7 linked regions of the Homo sapiens genome follow. The protein of the gene in region 4 purifies or fractionates together with the protein of the main gene of each other region. This does not show direct contact. Each region holds a gene or a part of one and is shown on either strand. Other genes may lie near its edges. The genes, in order: AKAP9, FDFT1, SCG5, PSTPIP1, ANAPC2, SUCO and CARS1.

Region 1 (3,500 bases), on a different chromosome or scaffold from region 4:
TCCCAGAACTTAAAGTATAACAAAAGAAAAAAAAGGAATATTGTACTAGGAGTTTAAAACTTGCCTTGATAATACACCTACTTAGAAAGATCAAGTGCCTTAATGAGTTGCATTTTGGTTTGTCATCTACAAAATGAATTAAACTGATTTTTTTTTTTTAAAAAACCACACAATGTTGAAAAACACATATTATAAAAACCAAATACCTCTTTACTTCTCAGACACTGTATCACTGCCTTCAAGGTACCACATTCCTCTTTCAGTAACTGAACGGCAACATAGTGTTCCCTCTTTAAGGTTTCAGTTTCTGAAATATGTCTGGATTCCATGTCCAAAATTTCAGCAGCATGTAGTTCTTGCATCTTCTCAATTTTTTCAGTAAACTGACTGATTATTTCAGTAACTTCTTCTGAGGAACATTCACTCTGTAAATTAATTTGTATTCCTGCATTTTTAACAAGAATTTGTGGAGTCTGATTGCTGCTACTGATCTTCAGAGTCCCATCTGTCTGGGATGCAATGCTCTTACTCAGTTTTATAGGAAGTGGCTCAAACATGCAGGCCTTTTTGCTTTCTTGTACCTCAGTCTCATCTTCTTTTTCTAAAATGGACAATTTCTCTTTTGCCTCTGCGAGGTGATCCCTAACTTGGCTTAAGTCTTTCTGAAGAGATGTCATATTTGTTTCTTTTACCTAAAACGTAATGAATAGAACAGTAGGGCATTCAGTTAAAATCTTCCCATATTAAATGTAGAATTTAAAGGGTGTGGGAGGAATGTAATTCATGATTATACGTTCATTTTCCTCAGAGTAGTAGGAAAAACATTTCAGAAACGCTCACAGTTTACATATATATATTTGTATGTACGTATGGTCATAGATTACTATAGAAATGAAATAATTTTATTAGCTTCTATTTTTGGTTCTCATGGGATATACAGTTCTCTTTAACAACTTTCTACTCCTTCATTAACAGAATGGAAATAAAAAGTATCCTCCTAAGAAAGATTTCCAGGAAAACCAAGCAAGAAGATGTTGGTAAAGAAATTTATAACAATGAAAGTTTTCATCAAATCCACAAAATACTTTTTATCTAGCTTTTAAGTTATGGAGCTCATTTGTTATAAAAGAGTATATACTTTGAAACGTAATTAAGATAGGTAGAAATGAGTGAATTAGGAGCTATGTTACTTATCTTACCAAAAGCTCTTCTTGAAGTTTTTCAGCCTTTTCTTTATAACTGGCAAGTTCTGCTTTGGTAGCCACTGATTCAGCTCTAAGAGCCTCGAGTTCATTAAAAAATCCACTTTCTTCATTGCTATGAAATAGCTCAGTAGTTGTCTGAATGACAGCGGAAACACAAGAAACACATAATTTAAAAAAAATATAGCTAAATTCAAGGCTCTTATACATTCTAATAAAACCATCCAAGGAATGACTGCCTACAGATATAAGGAGTTGGAACAAATCAATGCTCTTTCCAAAAACAGAGAAGCTTTTTCAGAACCATCATCTTATATTCTTGAGACAATGATTTTCTTCTTGAGAAAAGAATGATTTTCTGGGAATAAAAGGTAAGTAATGTTATTCATATACATCCTAAAATGGAAAGTTACATTACTATTTTAGGCCAGGCACGGTGGCTCACGCCTGTAATCCCAGCACTTTGAGAGGCTGAGACAGGTAGATCATTTGAGGCCAGGAGTTTGAGGCCAGTCTGGGCAACGTGGCGAAACCCTGTCTCTACAAAAAATACAAAAATTAGCCAGGTGTTGTGGTGCACACCTGTAGTCCCAGCTGCTCAGGAGGGAGAGGTTGCAATGAGCCAAGACTGCGCCACTAAACTTCAGCCTGGGCAACAAAGCAAGACTCTGTGTCCAGGAAAAAAAGAAAGTTATATTACTATTTTAATTATCTATAACTTAAGTAACTTAGTTCCAATGAAGGAGGAAAAAGCCAGGGAATTATTATTCTTTGCAAAATATATAATTATAGAATTGTGATTTATCAGTTAATCTTCTGGTGTTTGGAGAAGACTGAAGTTCAGCTACTCAAAGTTATAAATTTATAAGGTGAGAATTTGGAGGAAAAAAAAGCTCTTGTCCTATCTGTCATATGCTAAGAAATAACTGCGATTTCAGATCTTCTCATAAGTAAACTTACAGAGGTCAACTACGCATTTTTACTTAAAACAGATGAAATCTATTATCAGGTATAAAATTTGTAAAAGCTGGCCAGGCGCAGTGGCTAACACCTGTAATCCTAGCACTTTGGGAGGCCAAGGCAGGCGGATCACTTGAGGTCAGGAGTTTGAGACCAGCTTGGCTAACATGGAGAAACCTCGTCTCTACTAAAAAAAAAAAAATATATATATATATATATATATATAAATTAGCCGGGTGTGGTGGTGCGTGTCTGTAATCCCAGCCGCCTGGGAGGCCGAGGCAGGAGAATTGCTGGAAACCCAGGAGGTGGAGGCTGCAGTGAGCTGAGATCACACCACTGAACTCCAGCCTGGGCGACAGAGCGAGACTCTGTCTCAAGAAAAAAAAAAAATTGTAAAATATGTCACCCACACATTAATTAATTCAGTAGATGCTATTAAATAATAGATTTCTTTCTGTAAAGTCTGCATTCTTTGTCAATCCTAACATATTTTCATACTTATTATTACTTAAAAGGAATGATAACATAACATGCATATTAGAAGCAAATTAAGAAAAAAATCCCCATAAATCCTAGAGAACATTTGCTAAAATTAATGTTTCTTAGTTTCTTCTGACTGCTCCATTTAATGATGATGTTAATGAAATAAATATCATATTTAAAGACCATAAAATACAGTCTGTATCCATTATTTTAGTGATAATAATATGACTACACAGTGTTAAGTTAAATTTGGCCTGAGGCTGTCTCTGTATCTTGAGTTCCTATGTAAGGAACTACAATCTAACTTAGGAGTACGTAAGCAAACTGAAAACGTATCTTAGGAGTATAATAAACAGCCAACTCTTAGCTAATGACAAGCAGTCAACTGAGCAGACTGGGTCCAAATAAGGCAAACACCTAACTGTAACTAATCAAGCTATTTCTGTATTTTATTTGGTAGTTCTGTCTATAAATATTCACTGGCCACTGTTGCACAAAAGAGATTTGTGAAACTCCTCTGGTTCTGAATGCTACCCAATACGTGAATCCTTTTTTGTTCAAATAAACTCTCGTAAATTTAGTTTGTCTAGTTTTTCTTCTTCTTTTTTTTTTTTGAGATGGAGTCTCGCTCTGTCACCCAGGTTGGAGTGTGCAGTGGCGCGATCTTGGCTCACTGCAAGCTCTGCCTCCCGGGTTCACAGCATTCTCCTGCCTCAGCCTCCCGAGTAGCTGGGACTACAGGCACCCACCACCACGCCCGGATAATTTTTTGTATTTTTAGTAGAGACGGGGTTTCACCGTGTTAGACAGGATGGTCTCGATCTCCTGACCTCAAGATCCACCCGCCTCGGC
Region 2 (3,500 bases), on a different chromosome or scaffold from region 4:
TGTTTTGCTAAAGAAATAATTATGAGGTGCTACTTCACACTGACTAGGGTTGTATATGCATTTTATTGCCTATTTTCTAAAACACTAAAAATGCTAAATTCTGCCCCAGGTCTTGCCACAGATGTTTCAGTGGACTATGGGCCTGTGAGACCTTAAAGGGTTGATTGAGTAAGGATCACAGGTGATGTCCGCATTGTGCTTGGCATGGAGTTAAGTGCTTGATAAATGGTGGTTATCAATCTGATTATGTAAATTTATGTAAATTCAGTTCTCAAGTTTGTGGTTTTTTTCCCCTCCTGGAGAAATCTATTCTATTTTAAAGTGAGGAAGGCTCCGTGGAGGGCTGGTAGCTGGTAGCTGTTCACTTGTGGAACTTTCAGCCTGAGGCTGGAGCCCCTTCCTGGGAGTCTGGTCTTGTCGTCTTCCTGACCACCCCCACACCCTTCCTCTAAATTCCCTCCATCCCTGTTTTTCTCCCGCTTGCGAGCTTTTGGGAGTGTGCTGAATCTCAGACTGCAATAGATAAACCCAAGAGGGACAGGCACCAGTAGCCTGAGCTTGCTTTCTCCCCTGGCTCATGGGAATCAAGCAGTAGAAATTTTTAGTGAGTGTTGTTTTCCATAGTATGCTTACTAGTTGTGTCTTCCTGTTTTGTTCTTGGTGATTTGAAGAAACCTGTTTACAAGGTAAGGGACTGAAACAAATAGGTGACAGGAAAAAGAGCAGCAGGGGTACGAGCTGGAGGAGTAAGTGGCTTGGCTTGCTCTCTTTCAGAATGGAGGGCTGTATGGAAAGGAGGGGTAGTGTTCTTGAAGAGTGTTGGGGTTTAAATCTAGGGGGACCGTGTCTTGGCATTGATTGAAACTCCTGGCTTAACATCACCCCGAAACTGTTAGTTGGACTGAACATGACATTTGGCAGTGCAGTTAAAAACACTTCCTGCTGTAGCCTGGTAATGGTCAGGCTATGTGAAGAGCTGCTCTGGAGCTCAGTCCAGAGCGGGTATTCTGTTTCTTTCACTCTGAAATCCTGCCTCTCGATATTTTGAGAAGGAAGGAGTTGGTGAATTGTTTTAAAATCCTCGATGAATGTCTTCATTTATTCATGACACCACTTCTGAATATATTTATGTGCCAGACGCTGAAGTTTACTAATATTATGGTGCCCAGTAAATACTTGTTTTTACTAATATTTTTTATGGCAATAAAATGACTTTTTCAGGATTATGTGATTTAAAAGATTGACCCTTTTGGCAAAATACGTATTCATGATAGGAAATATATACAAATAAAAACAACATAGTTCACTTAAACCTCCCACCAGAGCCCAGGGTTCACTGTTACCATTCTGAAGTGACTATGGAATTTCCTAGAAGTGGATATGCCATATTTTTTTAACCACTCCTATTGGATATTTGTTTTTTATTTTTTTGAGATGGGGTCCCACTCTGCAGTGTACAATATCATAGTTCACTGTAACGTGTATCTCCTGGGCTCAAGCGATCCTCCCACCTCAGCCTCCTGAGTAGCTAGTCTTCAGTAGCTAGACTATAGGTGGGCGCCACCACACCTGGCTTTTTAAAAAATTTTTTAAAAACTTTTTTATGAACACGAGGTCTCACTATGTTGCCCAGGCTGCCCTCAAATTCCTGGGCTCAAGTGATTCTCCCACCTTGGCCTTCCGAAGTGCAGGGATTATAGGCGTGCGCCACTGCACCCGGCCCTGTTGGATAAATGATTCCAGTCTCTCCCAAAAAGAACTGTTGTAAGACTGTGGGGTGAGGGGAGGGAAGGGACAAATAGGAACCCGCCGTATTTTCCACTCCCTGTGGGCCTAAAACTGCTCTAAAAAATAGTCCATGAAAAAATACATAGTACAAACAGCAACTCTTTCTGATATGCTTGCATTTAAAATCAGGCTTTTTCTCCCTTTTGGAAAAACACAGTCCTTGTTTGCTTTAGGGAAGAGTAAAGGTCAGTGCGCTGCATTGCATTAATTTCGAAGGGAAAGATGAGAAGACATCTTGAAAGGAATGGCTGGCTTTCTAGAGAATAGTAGAGGCTTAATAGGTGTCATAGAAAAACCAGGGTTGGACAGTGGTAGTAAAACGGCAAAACAGATTTTATTCAGAAAAACTACTGCAGTAAGAGGAGAGAGACCTCGGTACAGAACTGCTCCACTGCGAATACAAAGAAAAGTAGGAATTGATGGCGGGGGAGCCGGATGTCAGTGGATGGAAAATTATTACGAGGAAACACAGGGGTGTGCATTCTTGCTGAAGGCAGGCCAGAGTTATCAGACATCACCTGAGGGATGGAGGGGGATGTGGAACCTAATCGGCTGTCTAGGGTGATCAGATACTGAAGTTGGGGGATTCTGGTCAAATCAATTTAGCAGGATTCTTGGTAAAACTGGGCGATGCAAAGACAGATGCGTTGAGTACAAAGTCCAGGCCTTATTGGGAAGAGGATTTCAGCGGAGCCCGAGTAGAGTTTGGTCTAGGGAGACTCTGTCACTGGGAGGACGAGCGAGCCGCTCGGAAGTGCGCTGGGTTCCCTTAGCGGCCAGTGGGTTCTGGTGAGAAGGGCAACAGCGGGAGGAGGCGCCGGTGCGGAGCGGGAGGCCGGGGGCGGGGCTGCGGGGCTGCGGGGCGGGCCCGTTGTGGGTCGGCCCAGCGCGTATTCGAGTAGAGGGCGAGCCCGTCCCGCCCCTCGTCGGGCGCTTCCCAGATCTGCTTGAGTCTATGGAGGAAAAACTCCGCGGGGTCCGCGATTCCCATGGCCGCAGCCGCCTGCGGCACCAAGGCCATGGCCCTCTTCAAGCGCACCTTGGTGCTGAGTCCCGCCGCGGCGCCCAGGGGCCCGGGCGCAGGCACCGCCCCGCGGGGCTGCTGCTTGCCTCCTGCCGCCTGGCCCTGCAAGGACTGGCCTCGGGGAGAGGGCGGCAGGCTGTGGAGCCGCCTGCCCCAGTCCCACTCCCACTCCCACTCCCACTCCCACTCCCACTCCTGCTCCTCGACGTCTCCCACCGCCGTGTGTGTTGTCTGCCCGCAGGACTCGCTCAGCAGCAGCCTGAAAACTTGCTACAAGTATCTCAATCAGACCAGTCGCAGTTTCGCAGCTGTTATCCAGGCGCTGGATGGGGAAATGCGGTGAGTGATGGAGGCAGCGCCTCTGGCTTGGAGGAAAGCTTGTCCGGGACCTTTGAGTGTGTTGGAAGCTACCTTTTGATATAGCGCTCAGCGTTGCAGCCTCGTTGCTGTGGCTTATCCAGAACATAGCCCGGCCCTACGTGTTTACTTTAGAAAGCCCTTCCAGGCTCTTTGCCATCTAGTAGAGTCCCTGCGGGCCCAGCCTTTCAGAGAAGAGGGGGGAGGGGGTGATGTTTATTAACTTTTTTTAGTCTTGGCAGCTGAACCTGCCTGTGAGCAGGTCGTGTATTTCTCGGCTTCCCTTATCCAACTTTGCATTTCTATTTCTAGCATATTGGGTTGATTCTTT
Region 3 (3,500 bases), about 44 Mb from region 4:
CCAGAGACTTTAAGGATTGAAGTTCAAGGTGGACAAAATGCAACCCCAAAGGCATGGGCCCATTGGGCGGTCCCAGTCCATTCATAGATGGCCTACAAGCCCAATGTTCTCATTGGTTCCTCCAGGGTGAGGATAACCTAGAAACAGATTTTAGTCAAGACACATAAGAGTCAGCTGCACTGCTTTCTCCAACTGCAGAGAGAGACTAGCCAGAAACGGAGTGTCCCCTACAGTTCAAGGTTTGCTTCACCCCGCCATCCTCAAATGGGAAGCAACTGTTGCCACCCTGTGGCAAAGCGGAGGCACTGCAGCTCCTTTACCAAGGCCAAAGCTTGGCAGAGTAGAGGCTCCTAGGATCTGCCTCTTCAAGTAGCCTATCATCCACAGGACTCTTTCTCCACTTGATATTTATTAAGAAAATAACCTTGGGTCTCTATTTCTAAGTGAAAAATTTGAAGTCCAACAGTCAGTGTTATAAAAAAGAACGTATTTTATTTTATTTTATTTTTCTGAGACAGAGTTTCGCTCTTGTTGCCCACGCTGGAGTGCAATGGGCGATCTTGGCTCACTGCAATCTCTGCCTTTAGGGTTCAAGCGATTCTCCTGCCTCAGCCTCCCGAGTAGCTGGGATTACAGGCACGTGCCACCATGCCCAGCTAATTTTTTGTATTTTTAGTAGAAACGGGGTTTCACCATGTTAGCCAGGCTGGTCTCGAACTTCTGACCTCAGGTGATCCGCCCGCCTCGGCCTCCCAAAGTGCTGGGATTACAGGCGTGAGCCATCGCGCCCGGCAGAACGTGGGTATTTTAATGTTTGGCAATATGGATTTAAAATTACTCAGAGCCATCAAATGCTAATGTTTATACATTTCTATCTTAATGGCTAGATAACTGGTGTTATCACAGTGCTAGATAGCTGGTGGCCTAGAACTGTGGGGAAAATGAACAGCTGGCACTGAGCAGCCTATCTTTTACCTGAAGCTGTTAATGTTCTGAAAACGAAAGCACATTTTCTGGTTGGATTCATCCAAGGCCATCCAAGGCCATCATCAGTGTCAGCTGGCACAACCAGTTCTAACTCCCAAGAGCTCCCATCTCACAGCACATGGTTCTCCGAATCAGTCCCCTGGACAGTTGGTGGCTTTATTTGTTTCTGGGGATAATACAACAGTAGCCATTTAGCTATGTCTTGGAGACCAGTGAGCAACCGTGGGCTTGGGAGAAGATGGTTACTGCTGAAATATATGGTGCACTGAAGCATATCTGAACTGTATTGCTAACTGATGAGTAATCAAAAATAAGACTGGGGCGCCGGGCGTGGTGGCTCACGCCTGTAATCCCAGCACTTTGGGAGGCCGAGATGGGCGGATCACGAGGTCAGGAGATCGAGACCATCCTGGCTAACATGGTGAAACCCCGTCTCTACTAAAAATACGAAAAAAAAATTAGCCAGGTGTGGTGGCGGGCACCTGTAGTCCCAGCTACTCGCGAGGCTGAGGCAGGAGAATGGCATGAACCTGGGAGGGCAGAGCTTGCAGTGAGCTGAGATCCCGCCACTGCACTCCAGCCTGGGCGAAAGAGCAAGACTCCGTCTCAAAAAATAAATAAATAAATAAGATTGGGGTAAGCCATTAAAGACTGAAAACATGTTGTTGATAATCCACAAAGTGAGAGGAGGAAGGCCTGCAATTCAGTTACTAATGGCACCCACTGATTGCATGTAAGAGTGGGCTGGAAACCCCATTTTATTTTATTTTTATTTTTCAAACACCAACTCGAACCAGACAAGCCCATTTTATTTGGGCCGATTTTATTTGAGAGAACTAGGCTTAGAAAGTTGCCAGGATTACACATAGCTAGAAAATAGTACGGCTACGGGTTAACCCGAGTTCTCTGCCATAAACATACACACTCTTTTTTTTCATGTAATGCCAAGTAGGTCCCTGTTTGTCTTTGTGTTTTTATTTGCTTTGGACTAAGAATTTACACATTTGAAAGATGCTCCTTACCAAGCTGTTTTTAAGGCGCCCACGGAGAAGTTAAACATAACCCCCAATCCTCTCTGGATGTTTTGGCAAATGCTTCTACCCCAGCGACCACTTAAAGCTATTAACGACCAGGAGGCTGGCTACCAGGGTTCAGGAATCTTCCAAAATAAACTTCTAGTCTAGTTGGCCCTCTGCTGGTTTAGTCCCAGGACTGCAAAAAGTCCTTCTAGCTCCTTGGTAGGCGCTGTACAAAGGGCACAAACCTTGCACCATGGTGATCACAGTCATAGTCAATTCTAGATAACAGACATTTTTGCTCACCACATTATCACTAAGCTCATGGCAAGAACCTCTAGGCAGAGATTTTTAAAAACAGAATAGAAATGGAATATTTTCCTTGAACTAAAAGGCAGAAAGTCTTGACAGATCCAGATGTAAAACAGTATTTACATACTTATTGCCATTAGGTATATTTATTTCCCCCTGATATTATACATTAATTCCTCAAATATTTACTGAATGCTTACTATGTGCCTGGAATATAATGCAGTTAATAAGCAGATATAGCCTCATGGAGCTTACATTCCAGTGGAGAGATAAACAATAAGCAAGAAAACAAACAATGATTATAAATGACAAAAAATGCTATGGAGCTTTAAAAAAAAAGGCTGGACATGGCGGCTCACGCCTGTAATCCCAGCACTTTGGGAGGCCAAGGCGGGAGGATCACGAGGTCAGGAGGCTAACACGGTGAAACCCCGTCTCTACTAAAAACACAAAAAATTAGCCGGGCGTGGTGGCGGGCGCCTGTAGTCCCAGCTACTGGGGAGGCTGAGGCAGGAGAATGGCGAGAACCCGGGAGGCGGAGCTTGCAGTGAGCCGAGATCGCACCATTGCACTCCAGCCTGGGGGACAGAGTGAGACTCTGTTTTTTTTTTAAAAAAAAAAAAGGAGACTGCAACAGAGAATGTAGGGGGGTGCTACTCAGACAGGGCAGTCAGGCAGCCCTCTCTGAGTGGGTGACTTTGAAACTCGCTACACAAGGAATGGGAGGTTGATAGCCTCCCATTGTTGATCCCATCCAATGTGTTGATAGCCTTGAGGTGGGAAGAGGCCGGTGTGACTCAGGGCCAGAATGCGTGGAACAAAGTAGGGAGTACGATTGACTGGAGCTGTGGATCCTCGTAGGTCATGGCAAGAAGGGTTATTTTTATTCAGGGTACGATGGGAAGCCACCAATGGAATTGTAACTACGGAGATGACACTAATATGGTTTAAACTTTTCAAGTTTAACTCCTGAAAAAAGTTTAACTCCTGTTCTTCCTGTGAAGAACAATCGAAAAGGGATCAAGAATAGAAGCAGGAAGATGAGTTAGGAGGCGATTTCAAAACTCCATGCCAGACATGATGGTATCTTGGACCAGGGTGTTTGGAGTAGAGCTAGAGAGAAGCAGACAGGAAATTGCACATGGATTTTAGAGATAAAAATGAAATAAATTACTTAAAATTGAG
Region 4 (3,500 bases):
CAGAGCCACTTCCCTGACGGCCTGCCCTCTAACCAGGCCTCAGCTAAGCCCATGGGCCCACTTCTTCCTTTGAGGAGGGCTGCGTTACTTTCCCATCACTGATGAGGAAACGGAGCCACAGAGTGTGTCAGCAGCCAGCCCATGGTCAGACAGCTGGGGGGTGAGGAGCTGACACCGGAACCCAGGTGTGTCCCCTCCTGGACCCCTGTCTCTGGCTACATCTCCATCCTTGAAGCCCATGCTGAGCCAGTGCTGCAGGGGACTTGAGCCACCAGTGGAGACGCCTGTCACCTGCCCCTCAGGACTTCAGTGGAGGCCACCCAGGCTGGTGCAGACTGCGCTGCAAATGACTGAGGATGGATGGCCTCCTGTCTCCCCTGCCCAGACCCTTTCCAGAACTCAGACCCTCGGGCTTCCTCCCTCACAGAACCTGGCCTCACCCTGAATGCCCAATAACCAGGCACCAAGGAGCAATCCAGACCTACCCTGGTTCTGCCCAGCCTCCCCCATGCCAGGAAGACCTAAACCTCATCTAAAGGCCCAGAAACTGCCAGCAGAGGAGAGGAGTGAGCCCCAGGGCCCGGGAGATCTTACTTGATCTCCGTCTGGCCACCTGCCTTCCGTGCGATCTGCACCAGCTCCTTCCCGTACCGCTCCTCCGCCTGGGCCCTGCAAAAAAAAGGGCATTTGAAAGATCATCAGTGACTTGCCACCTCTGGGGGAGGCCCAGGTTTGAGGGAACACAGAAGAGTTTTTTAAAGCAGGGCGTGTTCTGACAGAGTTTGGCTGGGATGGGGGCCTCGTCCACTGTCCCAGGAGCCGAGCGGAAGCCACCTGCTTCCTGCCTGCGCTCCCCATGGCCTGCCCAGCAGCTCACCTCTGCCTCAGTAGCTCCTCCATGTCTTTGCACATCTTCCTGCCATCCAGAAGCCGCTGCAGCAGCACCTCGTAGCCCGTGTGGGCTGTGAAGTCCCTGCACTGTGACACAGGACAGAAGGACACATGAGGGCCACGACCAGGCGACACTGAGCACAGCCCTGTGGGGACCCTCCCACCATCTCTGGGAACAGCCTCCCTCCTGCCTCCATCTCCCCTGCTCAGGGCAAGCTCTTGGGACTCCAGACCTGGCTTTACACAGGCACACAGGAGGTCCCCTCACATCTGCAGAGGTGACAGGTACATAAGTGAGCCCCACCCAGCTGACAGGGCCGGGGGTGCCGGGCCTGGCATCTGGAGAGCTCACAGGACAGGACACACATCAGCATGAGATAGCAGATGGGAAGAGCCACCCTTAAGTCCCCCTGATGACAGCCAGGCCTGAAATTCACTCACTCACAGTGCCACCCTTCCAATATCCCTATCTCAGCTAAGTGGGGAAACCGAGGTGTAGGAGGGTGACATGTGATCGTATCCAGAGCGGCCCAGCTGGAAAGTGGCTGGCCTGGCCTTGAACCCCAGGCTGTCTGGCTGGGGTCCCTGCCCTTCACCTCAGCACTGTGCAGTCTCCATGACCATCACAGCAATTGCGGTTTCTTGGGCACCAGCCATGTGCCAGATGCTGCGCTGGGCTCTCTGTGGGCTCAGGAAACCCCCCCTCACGGAGATCCAGGGAGGTGGGCATGGAGGGTGACTTCAGTCCAGGTCAGAGCATGCGCAAGCACACCCTACATTCACCTCTGGACTGGGGTGGGGTGGGGAGCCTCAGAGAACTCTCCAGGGACAGCTACCCTCTGCTGCCTGGCACTTGCCCTGCTTGCCCTGGCTGTTGTTCCTGGCCAACCCAATTCTCCTTTCTCACTGTGCAGTGGATTCCAGGTGTGTGTCTGAGCTGCTGGTGTGGGAAGCTGGGTGTGAGAAGTTGGGGGAGGGAGGTAGTCTTTAAGGACTATGAAGGAACAGAGGTCTCCCAGGACATTCCCAGGCTTGGGGAGTGGGTCCCGGGGCCAGGATCCCCGCCACAACCCCCTGAGCTCTCCCAGGCACTGCACGCAGGCTTACTCCAGGGGAGCTTGAGAGGTGCTGGGGAGACAGGATTTTTGTCACCAACTGCACCAAGGCAGGCCTGACATTCCGCACCTAGTCTGTCTTCCTTTCTATCCCTGAGGACCCCTAAAGCCTCAGAGACTGGAGGAAGAAGTCCCAGCTCCCCTGACCACACACATTACAGTCTCCAAGGTCACGCACACTCCAGGGTCGCACACACATGACTCAGGTAAAGCCTGGTACTCCTTCCCCTGACCCATGTCTCCCCTCAAATGCCACCTTAGGGGTGTGAGGGGAACAGGGATGGAGTCGAAATCCAGGAGAGCTCTCTGCAGGAAGAGGCATTTGAGTCAGGTGCTGGAAGGAGAAGGTATTCTCCAAGGTCTAAGAAGAATCTGAAGTAGGGGTAGCAATGGCATAAATTGCCCCAACAGTGCCCCCCCTCCCCACAAACTCCAGCCCACCCTCAGCAGGTGGACTCTCCTGGCCTGTAGGACACTTAGGACCCCAAGCTCCTACCCCCTCCATAAGCATCCCTAGAAATTCCTGAGGAGGGCCTGGTCCAGGCTCAGCTGTCCACAGAGCAACAAGCAGCGTGTCTAGCCTGGAAGGCCAGAAGCTGTCCCCCCAGCCTCAGAGGCAGGCGCCCACCCCCATGTCCAGGTTGACATCACTGGGTTAGCTTGGACCAGGCTTCCATTTCTGTGGTTTTGGTGGGCAGCTGCTTGCAGCCAGCAGCCCTCCCCTTCCCACCCCTCAGCCTCTGCCCTCACTCCAGACCCTCAGGTCAGAGCTCCTGGCGGCTGGGAAGAAAAACAAATCTGGGGCCTCAGCCTCCTGCACCTGCCCGGAGGGACACCAGCATTCATGTCAGAATGCCACAGACCCCCCCGCCCTGAGAACTGGGAACCACCTTGTGCGGCTTCCCTCACTCCTCAGGAAACTGAGGCCAGAGAAGGAAATGGCTTGCTTGACGCTGCAGAGTCAGGACAAGAATCCGGACTCTCAGGGGACCTGTCATTCCTTCCTGATACCTCTGGAGAGGCCACCTGGAGCCCAGCCCCACACCCAGCCCTGACGCCAAGGGAACCCTTCTCCTGTCCTTATGGAGGCCCCCAGAGTGGAAAGAGAAGCAAACCGAACCTACGCTGGCCATTCGGGAGGAGTCAGAAAGCAGCGAGAGGCCCTGCAGGCTGTGACCGCCGTGCTCAAGTCCCCAGAGGCTGCAGGCTCCAGGATCCCGCCCAGTCCCCCGCTCAGAGCTTTGGGCTGCTGGCAGGGGCTGTGGCCGAGTGAGCTACTGTCACAAGGACTGGGATGTTCCGAGGAAGTGCCTGACTCTCCAGGGGCTGCTCACGATGCCTCCCAGCCCTGCACCCCTTCCCCCAGCCCGCGCCCTCCTCCTTCACCCCCACCCCTGCCACTTCCTCGAGGGCATGGGTCTGACTCCGTGCTCTGAGCTGGGACAGTCAGGCTCAGGATGTGTTTAGGAAATGAATGAACCAATCATCCTGTAA
Region 5 (4,277 bases), on a different chromosome or scaffold from region 4:
TGCCCAGTCCCTCTGGCCACCAGGGCACAGCCTTCGGCAGAGCCTCACTGCCAGAGACGAGGCGTGTTGGCCTAGAGGTCATTCGCCAGCCTCAGCAATTCCAACCGAACCCGCACAACGTCCCAACCTCGCCCGAGACCTCCTGGCCGAGCGTGTGGAGGTGGGCACAGGCTGAGCAGAGGGTGACCCCAGGGCTCCTTCTAAAGGCCAGAGGCGCAGGAATGGAGCTGGAGGTCTGGCGGGTAGCAAGCACTAAGCCCTAGGACGTGGCTGCCTGAGCCGTGGCCCGGGCGTGACGTGGACCTTCACGTGCCGCTCCCTGAGCACCCTGGGTCGGGGGCGGCCCGGGATTCTCTCAGGAGGCTACATTCCCAGTGCAGATGTGTAGGCCTAGGTGGCCCCTCACCTGCTGCTGAGGAGCAGGCCCTGCCAGGCTGAGAGAGAGGCCCAGGCTAGAGGAGGATCCTGGGGGGCCCCACAAAGCCACCAGGACAGAAAAGGATGATCTGACTTGCTTTAATCTGCACACTGCGGGGGTGGGGGTGGGCATGCTCCTCAGCAGTGCATTCTGGGACACGGGCGGGCGGGGGCTGGCACGGGAGGACGAGAGCACCTGCAGGGCAGCGCCTGGCGGGCGGGCGGGCGGGCGGGCGATGTGTCAGCTGCAGTTCTTGGGCAGGCGGTAGACGCCGGCCGAGTAGACGAGCTGCTGGTCCCGCACCTTCTTCTGCAGGTAGCCCTGCAGCTCCTGCAGGTCAATCTCGGCCAGTGCAGGCCCAGTCACCACAAACATGCGGAGCATGTTGTAGATACGATCCAGTGAGAGGCTCTCCAGGTTGGTCAGCATGGCCTGGATGTACGTCCAGAAGAGCTGCGGACACAGGCCAGCCCCCGTCAGGCACCTGCAGGCCTCGCCCCCGCCCCCTGGCCCCCCGTGGGGCCTGCACGCGCACCAGCAGCTCCTCCTCCTTCTGGTCGGCCTGGGAGGCCATGCCGGAGTCGCTCTCGTCGTCACTGTCAATGAGCACCATGTTGTCCCGGTCCTGAGGCCGCTCCTCCTCAATGACAGAGAAGGTGCCGGGGGGCTCCTCACGCAGCACACCCTGCTGCAGCCACACGGACATCCGCCGCCGCAGCAGCGCCACGGGCATCTTCACCGCCTTGCTCAGTTCCTCCAGGGTCCAGCTGGCTGCGTGCAGAGTCACCGGGACGCTGGGCAGCCTGGGCACGGGCTGCACCTCCCCTGCCTCCCGTCAGCCGAGAGGTCGGGGGGCTCCCGGGCCACCCTGCCTTGCCCGTGGGAAAGGGAAGGGTGCCGCCTGCTGGCGCAGCTGCCCCAAACCACACCCTCACTGGGGAACAGCCCCTCACCCACAGCTGGGCCGTGTGGCCGGGGCAGGCCAGCTAGGGGCTGGTGGGCTCACCTTGGTCCTGAAAATACAGCAAGATCACCGCCTGTACTGGGGTGACCGCCACAGACAGCGTGCGGTCGGCCAGCTCCACGTCCATGGTCACCAGGCCCAGGGTGTGCTTCCAACTGAGGGTCCGCATGGCCTAAGGAGGGCCAGGGTCAGCACGGGCAGCTCGGCTGCAGGGCGCTCAGGCCCGTGGGCTCTGCCACCTGGTACCAGTGAGAAAGGGGCTCCCAGAGCCACCTGCCCCACCCCACCCTGGCAGGCAGGTGAGCAGCGAGAGCACAGGACTGGGTGGGGTCCCCACCTGCTCAGCCACCATGGAAGGGCAATGGGGCCAGCATCATAAGGTGTGTCCCGAAAAGGCTACAGGGGCCTCCTGACCCCCAGTGCTTGGAAATGTGGCCATATTTGCAAACAGGGTTGATGCAGATGTAACTGAGGTGCATCCTAACCCAACTGACTGGGGTCCTTCTAAGAAAAGGAAAGATAGGAAGACACAGGCAGGCGGGGAGGGGGCCACACGAAGACAGAGACCACCTGGAGCAACGCGGCCACAAGCCAAGAAACACCAAGGGCTGTGGCAAACACCAGAAGCTGGGGGGCAACGGAGGTCTCTAAGAGGGTTCAGAGGGAACGGGGCTGCCAGTACTTTCATCTTGGACTTCCAGCCTCCAAAACTAAGACAATCTATTTCTGTTTTTTAAGCCACCCAGTTTGTGACACTTTGTTACAGCAGCCACAGTAAACGAACAGATTTTGGTACCAGGAAGGGCCAGGAGGGGTGCTGCCAAAACCTAACACCAAGAACTGTGGCAGCAGCTTTGGAAGTGGGTGATGGGGAGAGGCTGGAAGAACTGGTGAGGCCTGCACGACTGCTGGTAGAAAGGCATGAAGACAAGCCTGGAAATGGCTGGAAGAGGAGAGCTGCCGCCGTCTTGGAGAATGCACACAGCATCACAGACTGGATGTCGGCAGCAATGCCGACCCAACAGGTGCTTCCAGTGAGGTCTCAGATGGAAATGACCGTGCTACTGGGAACCGGAGGAGGCAGCAGAGAGCTTGGCTGGCTGCTGCTCTGCTGTTGGGTGCGAAGTGGGACCTGCAGCTGATGAGCCTGGACATCAAGCTGAGATTTCCAAGCAGTGTGGAAGGTGCCACCTGGCTTCTCCTTGCTACTTATAGCAGAATGCAAGAGGGAAACAATCAGTGAGGCAGGGACCATTAAGCAAAAAGGCACCAGCCCTTGGGGATCTGAAAAATACTCTATCCAGGCAGCTCTGAGACGTGGCCAAGGGTGTGGCTGGACCAGGGTTTGCTAGACATGAGGTGTGACCTGTGTATCCAACTAACCATCTCAGCAGCAGACAGGGACAGGTGGGGCCTCCGGGAAAGGGCTGCGGACCCGCCTGTCTGAAGGCTTCGGCACTGGTGAGCTGCATAAGCCAACAAGGTGTGAGAATTTTACACCCGCAGAAGTGCTGCCAGGCTGGAGTGAAAGGAAGGCAGGCTCCAAGAGCAGAGCCGCCGAGGCCAAGGCTGACGGAGCAGGGGGCCAAAGAGGATTCGCAGGCCTGGAAGTCAAGTGGAATTTCGGCTGCTGGGTTTGGACTCGCTGTCCTTTTTCCTCCCAGTTTTCCCTTTTGGGGTGGGAATGTGTATGCTTGTCTTACGGCTGAACTTTTGAAACAGATCATCTGTTGGCTGATTTCACGGCGTCCCAGCTGGAGGAATGGCGCGCACTCCAGCCTCACCTGTACCTTGTTTAGATCTATTTACGTAGAGGAATGGCGCACACTCCAGCCTCACCTGGACCTCGTTAAGATGCATTTACAGGCTGAGATGTGTGTGGAACTTTGTGTGGATGGTAGTTAGATGAGATTTTGGACTTGGAGTTGATGCTGAAATGGTGAAGACTTTTGGGGACACTGGGGCTGTCACTTGCACGTGGGAGGGGCCCACCATGGGGCAAATTGTCATGCACTGAATTGTGCCCCTCGAAAAATGACACATGAACCCCTAACTCCCGGTGCCTCTGATGAGATCTTATTTGGAAATACGGTCATTAAAGATATAATTAAGATGACGTCACCCTGGAATAGAGAGAGTGTTCTTCTAAGAGGGAGATAGGAACAGAGACACGGGGGAACATCACGGGCGACGCGGCAGAGACCAGAGCGAGGCACCCACAGGCCCCGGAGCTCCTGGAGCCCCCAGAAGCTGGAAGAGGGGAGGAAGCAGCCTCCCCTAGAGCCTTCGGAGGGCCCTGCTGACCCTGACTTTAGACTTCTGACTTCTGTAAAATGATATGTTTCTTTTAAGCCCGCTGGTTTGTGGTACTTTGTTCTGGTAGCACTGGGGCACTGACACACCTGCTCTGTGGGCCAAGGGCTCCTGAGTCCTTCCAGGATCCGGCAGCTTCTAATGGAAACAAACCCCTCTTTATGGACAGAAAATGGAAGTGGAGTCAGTGGCTTGCTAGGTCCTAGTTCTGGCTCCAAGGCCATGACCTCCACAAACGCCGCCACTGGTCAGCCTGCCGCAGGACACATGCAAGGGCTCAGGGGTGACGCTGTGGGCTGCATGGCCAGCCACGTGTCCAACAAGGTCGCTCGGCCAGGAGCTCTGCTGGTGGGACCTCTCAGCACAGCCCCGGGGCCTCCCTGAGCCACTCCTGTGTCCCACTGAAGTTAAGACAAAGGGCACTAGAGTGTGGCTGTCCCAGCACATCAGGCCTGAGCAACAGGAAGTGGCTGAGTCATGCCTGGGACCCAAGGCAGGACCCTGGAGGGAGGCCATTGGGGCCTTGCCTGGAAGCAACGCTGGAGAGCCTGAGGCAGCCAGAGGGGCAGGGGGAAAGGGACC
Region 6 (4,299 bases), on a different chromosome or scaffold from region 4:
CAGCAACAAAAATTAATAATGACATAGATGAAATGGTTTTTCTGTAAACATAATCTAAGGTTAGTACTCAAGGCTACAAGACAAAAGCAGAGGGGAGACATAATCAAGATCTACAAAATTATGATAGTAAACATAACACAGTAATATTGGTAGCATGAGAGGGGAAACCTCAGAAACTAGAATACTGTAGAACAGACATACAGCACTCAATGTACAAAACAGAAACGGATCACAAAATTTTGAGACAATTTGTGAATAACAAAAGAGACAAAAGTGGCTACTAAAAGGCACTCATCAACTCTTGCAAACGTTTTATCTAACCCTAGGACTTGTTGGTAGCCATTTCTGTTAAAGGGAATGAGGTTGTTGGGAAAAGAAATACCACACCAGATTGCAGCAAAAGTTAGAAATCCATTAAGTGCCATTAATTCCAACTTGGCACAAAAGCAGAGGCTTCAAAGAAAAAACATACCCTTTGCCAATCAGCACCAGGTACCACTCCTCTTCCCCAATCTCATTCATCATCATCACCCTTTAAAAAACCCTTTAAGCCTTAATGTCCTATTTTAATGCCTTTTAATCGTTTTGCTAAAGAATAATTAAAATGTCTCTAAATTTGGCAGTCTAAACAAATCTCAAAATATACTAACCCAATAGTTTCTTAAGCTAAAGTTTCTTAAAATGTTCACACTCTTAAACTCTCCACATCCATTTTCCTCACTAGGAGTTAAAAAACTTGACAGAAGTTTATTACTACTACTTTCAATACCAGGCCAACCGATTTGTTCCCTAACAGGGAAATTCATTAGCTCTTCACTAGAGCTAATGATTGAAGGTGAGAAAACATACTGAGGGTTAGCTTAATCAAAAGATAGCCAGAAATTCCCAAAAGAAATAGAAGCAGAGTTAACTTAAATTTACAAATGATTGTAAGAATCACATTCTATTGCTTGATTTCGTTTACACCATCCAATTAAAAAATTAAAAAAAGCCAGAGATACTGGTGTGTTTTTAAACTTGAATGAAAGTGTTCACCTTTTCCTTATTAGCCATTTCAGAAACTTTTGATGATGAATAACATGGTTTAAAGATGGGCAAGACCAAGAAGAAAGAGGAAAGAAAATACACAGTCTACAAATATAACTAGGCAGCCCCAGAAAGAGATGGAAATGAATACAAGCTTCAGTATCTACAAATTTAAATTTAAAATGAGGTGAGTGGATTTATCTCTTACAGGCACTTCTCCGTACCCAACACAGTAAGTAGAAAGGGGAGGATTTTATTAAAAACAGGAGACGGGTATTAAAAGGATTCAGAATGAAAGGTAATAAGTCAATTGTTTTTGTTCTCAAAAACTTCTATCATTCTTCCAATAAAAATCCCTCAGCCAGGCGAGTGTTTTCTCTTCCCCTTGTTTATGTATTATTTTATGTGAGCAACAACTCTACAATTTCAGTGCTTCTGGAATCCATAAGGCATCCATAAAAATGAAAATAGTGTTGGTGCTTTGCAGAAATAAGCAAAACAGGAAACTTAATTTCTATTTTAATATAACAAACAGCAAATCGCCTAGACTGAAGAAGCATCTTTTCAGTCATCAATTGTCACACATCTTTGAAGAAATTCCCTGGGAGGAAAGAATGGCTTTTCCAAGTACGGTGACAGCAGTCCCTCGACTTACAAGCTTTCTCTGCTCCTCAAAAAACTCCAGAAGTGCCTGGGATTAACAGAAACTCCGTAAAACTTAAGGAGTGCTTTAGGGACAAAGCACTCTTCCCGCCTTGAAAATACAGCATTTACCTTCCCGTCACTAAGGGGCATTACCAAAAACTACTACACACACTACATCTAAGACACCCTCTCCACCAAACCAATTGAAAAAGTGCTTCATAACACACATACACACACGCCCCCCAAGTTTCCAAAAACAGCGGCCCGAGTGTACTTGGGATCAAACGCTGTGCGAGAAATGTCCAGGAGAACTACTGCTTATACATTACTCTTACCTTCATGACCACTCACGTTTTAAAATCGCACGTCCGGAACGCATCACATCCGACGTGCTTTATCCCCTTACCACACTAAGAACGCAAAGACTGGCGGCAAATCGGAGCAACTTACTTACCATCAATCTGAACACCCACCCCAAACCCTGCACCGTCTCCAAGGGGTAGAGGAACTGAGTACAAAGGCACTTGGTGGTTCCCTCTACCTTGGCACCTCTCTCTCTCCCACTGAGTCTCTGTAAATTCCAAAATACACCATGAAAATCTCCGCACAGAGCACTACCAGACCAGTCAGATGGAGAGTCGAGAAGTAATCGGTTTGTCCCTTCCACGGGGGCCTTGGAAACCCGGACCCTAAAAGCCAAAATGACCAGGGGGTGTGACCTGGGCTGCTCCCTCCCATTTACTCCCCTCACGGGAACTCCCTTGTCGTCGCGGCTACTCACCAGACCAGAGAGCACAGAAAGAGGCAGGAGACCAGGGCCAAGGCCCGCCGGTGCTTCTTCATCTTCTCCTCCTTCTTCCCCCTGCCAGAAGGCGGCACATCCTCCCGGCAGCCGCCACTGCCGAGGCCAAGATGGAGGAGCCGGAGCAGGAGCGCGAGAATGTGACCGATAGTCCTAAGGGCTATGGCGCTGGCTGAGCGGCTCCTCAGTGGCTCGCGTCCTGGCAGCCCTCTCTGAGGGCCCCACAGAGGCGCGGACAGGGGCGCTTCACAGGACTCCGGGGACCGCCGCCGCTGCAGCCACCGGCTCGTCCACGCCCGCCTCCTGCAGCCGCCACTGCCGCCCCATATCCTCCCCGCCCGCCGGGGGCCTTGCTCCGTGAGGCCAGCGACCAACGGCCGCCGCGTACTCGCCTCTCAACAGCCAATCGCCGGCGGGGCCGCGACACCTCACACACCGCTGAGCTGGAAAGGGACGCGTCACCCAAGTCCCGCGGCGCCCGCACCCCCACCAGCCTCTGCGCAGGCCACGCCCCCTTCGACGTCGCAGGCGGAGAAGCCGGAGGCAGGAGACCACAAAGCGCAGGAGCAGATGCTCTCGCCGCTCCGCCCGCCCCAGGTCCCGCCCACTTGCTGGCTTGCGTTCAGAAAGCCGGGAGGAGCCCAGTGATCCTCAGCATTTCCCCTTACAGTGGACCGCCCTTCGTCCCTCGCGCGCTGAGTCCGCGCAAGGGCCTTTGGGAGTTGTAGTTTGCCTTCCAGAATTCGTTTTTCTCTTTCCCAGTCCCTCCTAGAATCCATGGTTTTGTTAGAGAAGTCTATAGTTTCGCTGCTCACCACGAGACTGATCAGCTTTGGAACTGTTGCACTGTTTTCCTCTTTTGAGCACAGTTCGTGGAATGGCCTAGAATGACGTGTGTGTTGTGAGGGAAGCTGCACCAAGCCCTTTCCCTGTGGCAATGGACTGCCCCATTGAGCTAGATGTTGATTGGTAGATAGAAAGGGGCGTGCCAAGAATCCTCTCATCTGATTGGTTGCAGCGGAAAACCTTTCGCTTTTTCTTCTCTTCAGCAAGAATTTCGCCGCTTGCCGGGTTCCTCACTTTAAGTGTGCTTCGTTGCTTTTCGTTCTGTTGGTTTCGAACTTTGGGTTCTCTGCGATGGAGTCGGAAGGGAGGAGTTGTCCCCATTAGAGGAGCACCCACAGACGCTCCAAGTCCTGGGGTTCACCTAAAGTGGGGAAGGCAGTCGCTTACACTCACCTAAGAAGAGCAAAAAGTGACCACTTCTCAATACTAAGTAACGGGGCAGCATGCCCATTCCAAGTGTTTACGCCGCTGAGGGGACGGAGGCTGCAATGGTCTGTGCCTTGGAACATGGCATAATGTTTAGTGTGAAAAATGTTTAAAGGACGGGTTACTTATTGTTCATGTGGCCGTAGGGAAAAAACCCTCAGTAAAATGCCCACCTAACGCCTAATTTTGAGCCGCGGAATTTCCTTATGAACCTTCTAAGTTGAATTGGATGTTAATTATAGTCCCAAAGAACTGAATGATTTGATCCGCTCTGTGATTCTTGGATATAAGTCAATTTGATGTTAGAGAAATTATACAAAGGGTGATAATTTTTGTTTTAAAGGAGTTCACCCTGAACTGCCTTTTCTGGCAGTAATTAGGTACAGTTCCACTTATCTGCTGATGCCACTCTTAGTATATGACAATAAAATCCTTTCATCTGTCACCTATTGCGGGAAGCAAGTATTTATCTCACCCAAAAACAGTATCAAATGATTAATATGCAAGTTTAAAAGAAAGTAGGGGCAATGAAAGGGTAGGGATAAATTGACATT
Region 7 (3,500 bases), on a different chromosome or scaffold from region 4:
TTTCATATTAACTTATTGTTATTCGCTTATAACTTAATTACCCAGTGGTTGGAGAGTATGGTCTGTCCCAATCTGGATCTGTGAACAGAGACTTGTGTTGTGGCCCCTGTGTGTGCTGGTTTCTGAATGTTCTCTTGTGCTTGAGAAGATTCCGTCTAATCCCCTAGTGCACAGTTCCACATGCCATCCACTTAGCTATACCTGTTGGCCGTGTGGTTAATATTTTGTGTGTCTTTGCTAATTCTTCCTGTTGGCTTAGCCTATTCATACAGTTTCTTAAAAAAACAAAAACAAGAACCAAAACAAAACTCCCCCTCTGATGATGAATTTGTCTGTTTCTCCTTATTTTTTCACTTTTTAGAAAAAAAAAAAGTTTTTTTTTAGAGGAGATTCTGGTTCACATCAGAATTGAGAGGCTATATATATCCCCTACCCACCTCACCGTCACCTCCCCCAGCATCCGCACCCACCAGGGGGTACGTTTCTTACAGTCAGCGAACCTGCTCTGAGCGTCATTACCCTGAGTCCGTGGTTTACTTTAGGGTTCACTCTCAGGATTGTTACATCCTATGGGTTTGGACAAATACTATCTCGTATCCACCATTACGGTATCACACAGAATAGTTTCACTGCCCTGAACATCCTCTGTGCTCCAGCTATTATCCCTTCCTCCCCACCCCAACTCCTGACAGCAGCTAGTCTTTCTACTGTCTCCGTAGTTTTGCCTTTCCCAGAATGTCACATACTTGGAATCCTACAGTGTTGCAGCCATTTCAGATCGGAAAAAATTTTTAAACAGAATACTTCACCTCTGATCACCAAAATGCATAGGGATTTCTTCCTCACCCAGCCCACCTCTGCCCCGACAACCAGTCAGTTCTCTAGCAGGCATCAGCTGGGAGTCCTAAAATTTAATTCATTTCCAACACAGTTTGCCAGGAGGAAGCGTCAGATCTGACAGGTTGAAGGGCTCAGTCCCATAAGACTGTCCCCAATTCAGATGCCAGTTGAAAGTAGTAGTTTGTTACCTATACTTCTGACCTACCAGTTATTGGCCGGGCGCGGTGGCTCACGCCTGAACTCCCAGCACTTTGGGAGGCCGAGATGGGCAGATCATGAGGTCAAGAGATTGAGACCATCCCGGCCAACATGGTGAAACCCCGTCTCTACTGACAATGCAAACATTAGCTGGGCGTGGCGTCACGTGACTGTAATCCCTTCTACTCGGGAGGCTGAGGCAGGAGAATTGCTTGAACCCGGGAGGCGGAGGTTGCAGTGAGCTGAGATTGCACTACTGCACTCCAGCCTGGTGACAGAGCTAGACTCCATCAAGGAAGGAAGGAAGGAAGGAAGGAAGGAAGGAGGGAGGGAGGGAGGGAGGGAGGGAGGGAGGGAGGGAGGGAGGGAGGGAGGGAGGGAGGGAGGGAAGGAAGGAAGGAGAAAGAAAAGAACAGAGTGCACTGGTATATTTTGGAATGCTTCCTTTCCCTTCTTGCTATTGGAAACACAAGGGGATTTTTCTCCAATATTCACTGTGAGGCCTGGTCAGGTTCCTAGAGGTAAAACTCACAAAAGTATGGGGTCCCCTATGACTGGGTCCCTGGGGTTTTCAACTGTCTGACTTGCCTACACCAAGCCTGCAGCAATCTCTGTTACAGTCCTGGTTTTCCTCCCCCAACACTGGTTCCCACAGAATTTTCAGCTTATGAGTCTCTGCTCTGGTAAGTTGTGATTGTCTGTCTTCTCCTGTTGGTCTCTCCAGTTTAGGGGGCAGTGGTTTGCCCTATGACCTAACTTCTCTTATGGATCTAAGAAGAGTTGGTTTTTCAGTTTATTCAGCTTTTTACCTGTTGTTAGGTAGAGTGGCAACTTCCAAGCTCCTGACTTATGTGAAACTGGAAAGCAGAAGTCTCTTATCATTTTGTATTTATGCATTTTGATTGTTGATCTGTATGCTTGACCAGCAACATTGAGTATTCCAGCCCTATCATCAGGCAAGTTTTAGAAACATTATCTTAGAAGTATTGGTGGGAAGCAGCTTTTGTCTATCTTGAAGTGTGTATATTTCCCTGTTTGTTCAAGGTGGTTGCCGTCTTCTGGCTTCCATTGTTGGCTGTTGTTGAAAACATCGGCTGCCCTTCAAATTACTTTTCTTTGATTGGTAAATATGTCTTTTCTATCAGGCGCATTATAAAAGTATTCTCTCTTTTCAGTTTTCTGCTATTTCACAAAGACATTGTAAGAGATTTGTTTTTACTTATCCTATTGGATATTTTGTGTGCTTCCCGGGGCTGGATTGTTGCATGGGTTTTGAGAAATTCTCAGATGTGTCTTCAAGTATCACCTTTACTCGATTCCCTCTCTCCTCTCCTCTGGGTTGCCAATTAGATGTGAGTCTCATCATTTCATCTCATCCTTCTCCGTGTCTCCTAACCTGTCTTTCATAAAATTTTCCTTCTTGTCTCTGTTTCATTTTGGATGACTTCTTCAGTTCTGTCTTCCTGTTCACAAATTCTCCTTCAGACAGGAAGTGAAACAGTCACTCAGTAGGATGGATAAGACTGTTTCGCCTGTTAATAGATTTCATCTCTGCAGGTTCCGTTTGCTTCTATTTTCAGATCCAGCTGGGCCGCTTTGCTGGCCTGTCCCTGCTTGCTATTGCCTGTCATCTGGGAGTCCGTCCTTATGTCTTTAAGCCTGTAATATTTACTGGATTTTATTATGTATCTGATAACTCCTCCATCTGAAGCGTCCATCTGTTTGTCGTTTCTGCTGACTCCCATTCACAGTTGCTCATGTTCTTGGGTGTTTGGTGACCTCGATTAGGATGTCGGTTCTTGCTGGGTCGTGACCTTGGTGATCCTGAGGGCCAGGATGCGCGTTTCCCTGTACTTGGGGCAGGCCCAGTGTTTGCTTTTCGGGCAGCAGACTTGGCAGCCTTTGCTCCCCAGAGCGCACACCCTGCTTTTGGTGCTTGTCTGCCCACTGGATGCCCTGCCGCGGTGGGGAGGGTGTGCTCATTCCTGCAGACGTGCCTTGCCACTTGCAGGCCTGCAATACATTTAACACATCTGTTTGATTCAGGAGCTGTAGGCAGGGATTGCATCAGGAACCTGGCCCACGTGGGCCCTGTGCCCCTTCTCTGTCTGTGTTGTGGCTTTGTCCACCCTGTGTCCTTGCTGTCTGCCAGGCCATTTTCCTACACTTTTTCTCTCCAGCCTTGGTTCTTTGCCTCCCCTTCCCATAGTAGGCCACAGACCATCTGCTTGGTGTCACGCCCTGTCCTGGGTCCACGTCAGTGCATTGAGACTCTAGGTCCCTCCAAGATGGCGGAGGGTAGACATTTCTCTTTTCTGACATGAGTGCAGTTGGGGCGTGTCTCATGCCTAGAGTGTGTGTGGTCAGGACCTGGTTCACATAGGTGCCATGTTTTGCTGGGATTGGTGGTTTTTACTCCCATTCCATGGTGTGTCAAGTGGGGATGGCATCTTCAGTCAATG

What was found.
Region 1: the proteins of PSTPIP1 (region 4) and AKAP9 purify together in Homo sapiens (co-immunoprecipitation; one large-scale study listed by IntAct). This does not show direct contact.
Region 2: the proteins of PSTPIP1 (region 4) and FDFT1 purify together in Homo sapiens (affinity purification with mass spectrometry; one large-scale study listed by BioGRID and IntAct). This does not show direct contact.
Region 3: the proteins of PSTPIP1 (region 4) and SCG5 purify together in Homo sapiens (co-immunoprecipitation; one large-scale study listed by IntAct). This does not show direct contact.
Region 5: the proteins of PSTPIP1 (region 4) and ANAPC2 purify together in Homo sapiens (co-immunoprecipitation; one large-scale study listed by IntAct). This does not show direct contact.
Region 6: the proteins of PSTPIP1 (region 4) and SUCO purify together in Homo sapiens (co-immunoprecipitation; one large-scale study listed by IntAct). This does not show direct contact.
Region 7: the proteins of PSTPIP1 (region 4) and CARS1 purify together in Homo sapiens (affinity purification with mass spectrometry, with the first as the bait; one study listed by BioGRID). This does not show direct contact.

What each region holds. Positions count from the first base shown.
Region 1 is NC_000007.14:92,080,362-92,083,861, reverse strand, and holds part of AKAP9 (A-kinase anchor protein 9), read right to left. Parts: intron 1,341-3,500; coding exon 1,200-1,340; intron 693-1,199; coding exon 207-692; intron 1-206. UniProt on the Homo sapiens protein: Scaffolding protein that assembles several protein kinases and phosphatases on the centrosome and Golgi apparatus. Required to maintain the integrity of the Golgi apparatus. Required for microtubule nucleation at the cis-side of the Golgi apparatus.
Region 2 is NC_000008.11:11,805,741-11,809,240, forward strand, and holds part of FDFT1 (squalene synthase), read left to right. Parts: intron 1-2,202; exon of another isoform or gene 2,203-2,577; intron 2,578-2,727; exon of another isoform or gene 2,728-2,777; coding exon of another isoform or gene 2,778-3,053; coding exon 3,054-3,151; intron 3,152-3,400; exon of another isoform or gene 3,401-3,500. UniProt on the Homo sapiens protein: Catalyzes the condensation of 2 farnesyl pyrophosphate (FPP) moieties to form squalene. Proceeds in two distinct steps.
Region 3 is NC_000015.10:32,648,210-32,651,709, reverse strand, and holds part of SCG5 (neuroendocrine protein 7B2 isoform 1 precursor), read right to left. Parts: intron 1-3,500. UniProt on the Homo sapiens protein: Acts as a molecular chaperone for PCSK2/PC2, preventing its premature activation in the regulated secretory pathway.
Region 4 is NC_000015.10:77,015,626-77,019,125, reverse strand, and holds part of PSTPIP1 (proline-serine-threonine phosphatase-interacting protein 1), read right to left. Parts: intron 979-3,500; coding exon 878-978; intron 670-877; coding exon 595-669; intron 1-594. UniProt on the Homo sapiens protein: Involved in regulation of the actin cytoskeleton. May regulate WAS actin-bundling activity. Bridges the interaction between ABL1 and PTPN18 leading to ABL1 dephosphorylation.
Region 5 is NC_000009.12:137,174,284-137,178,560, forward strand, and holds the end of ANAPC2 (anaphase-promoting complex subunit 2), read right to left. Parts: intron 3,834-4,277; coding exon of another isoform or gene 3,785-3,833; intron 3,499-3,784; exon of another isoform or gene 1,555-3,498; coding exon 1,425-1,554; exon of another isoform or gene 1,233-1,424; coding exon of another isoform or gene 1,190-1,232; coding exon 954-1,189; exon of another isoform or gene 872-953; coding exon 659-871; 3' UTR 501-658; downstream 1-500. UniProt on the Homo sapiens protein: Together with the RING-H2 protein ANAPC11, constitutes the catalytic component of the anaphase promoting complex/cyclosome (APC/C), a cell cycle-regulated E3 ubiquitin ligase that controls progression through mitosis and the G1 phase of the cell cycle.
Region 6 is NC_000001.11:172,531,651-172,535,949, reverse strand, and holds the start of SUCO (SUN domain-containing ossification factor isoform 1 precursor), read right to left. Parts: upstream 2,801-4,299; 5' UTR 2,774-2,800; coding exon of another isoform or gene 2,515-2,773; coding exon 2,453-2,514; intron 1-2,452. UniProt on the Homo sapiens protein: Required for bone modeling during late embryogenesis. Regulates type I collagen synthesis in osteoblasts during their postnatal maturation.
Region 7 is NC_000011.10:3,029,924-3,033,423, reverse strand, and holds part of CARS1 (cysteine--tRNA ligase, cytoplasmic), read left to right. Parts: intron 1-1,847; exon of another isoform or gene 1,848-3,500. UniProt on the Homo sapiens protein: Catalyzes the ATP-dependent ligation of cysteine to tRNA(Cys).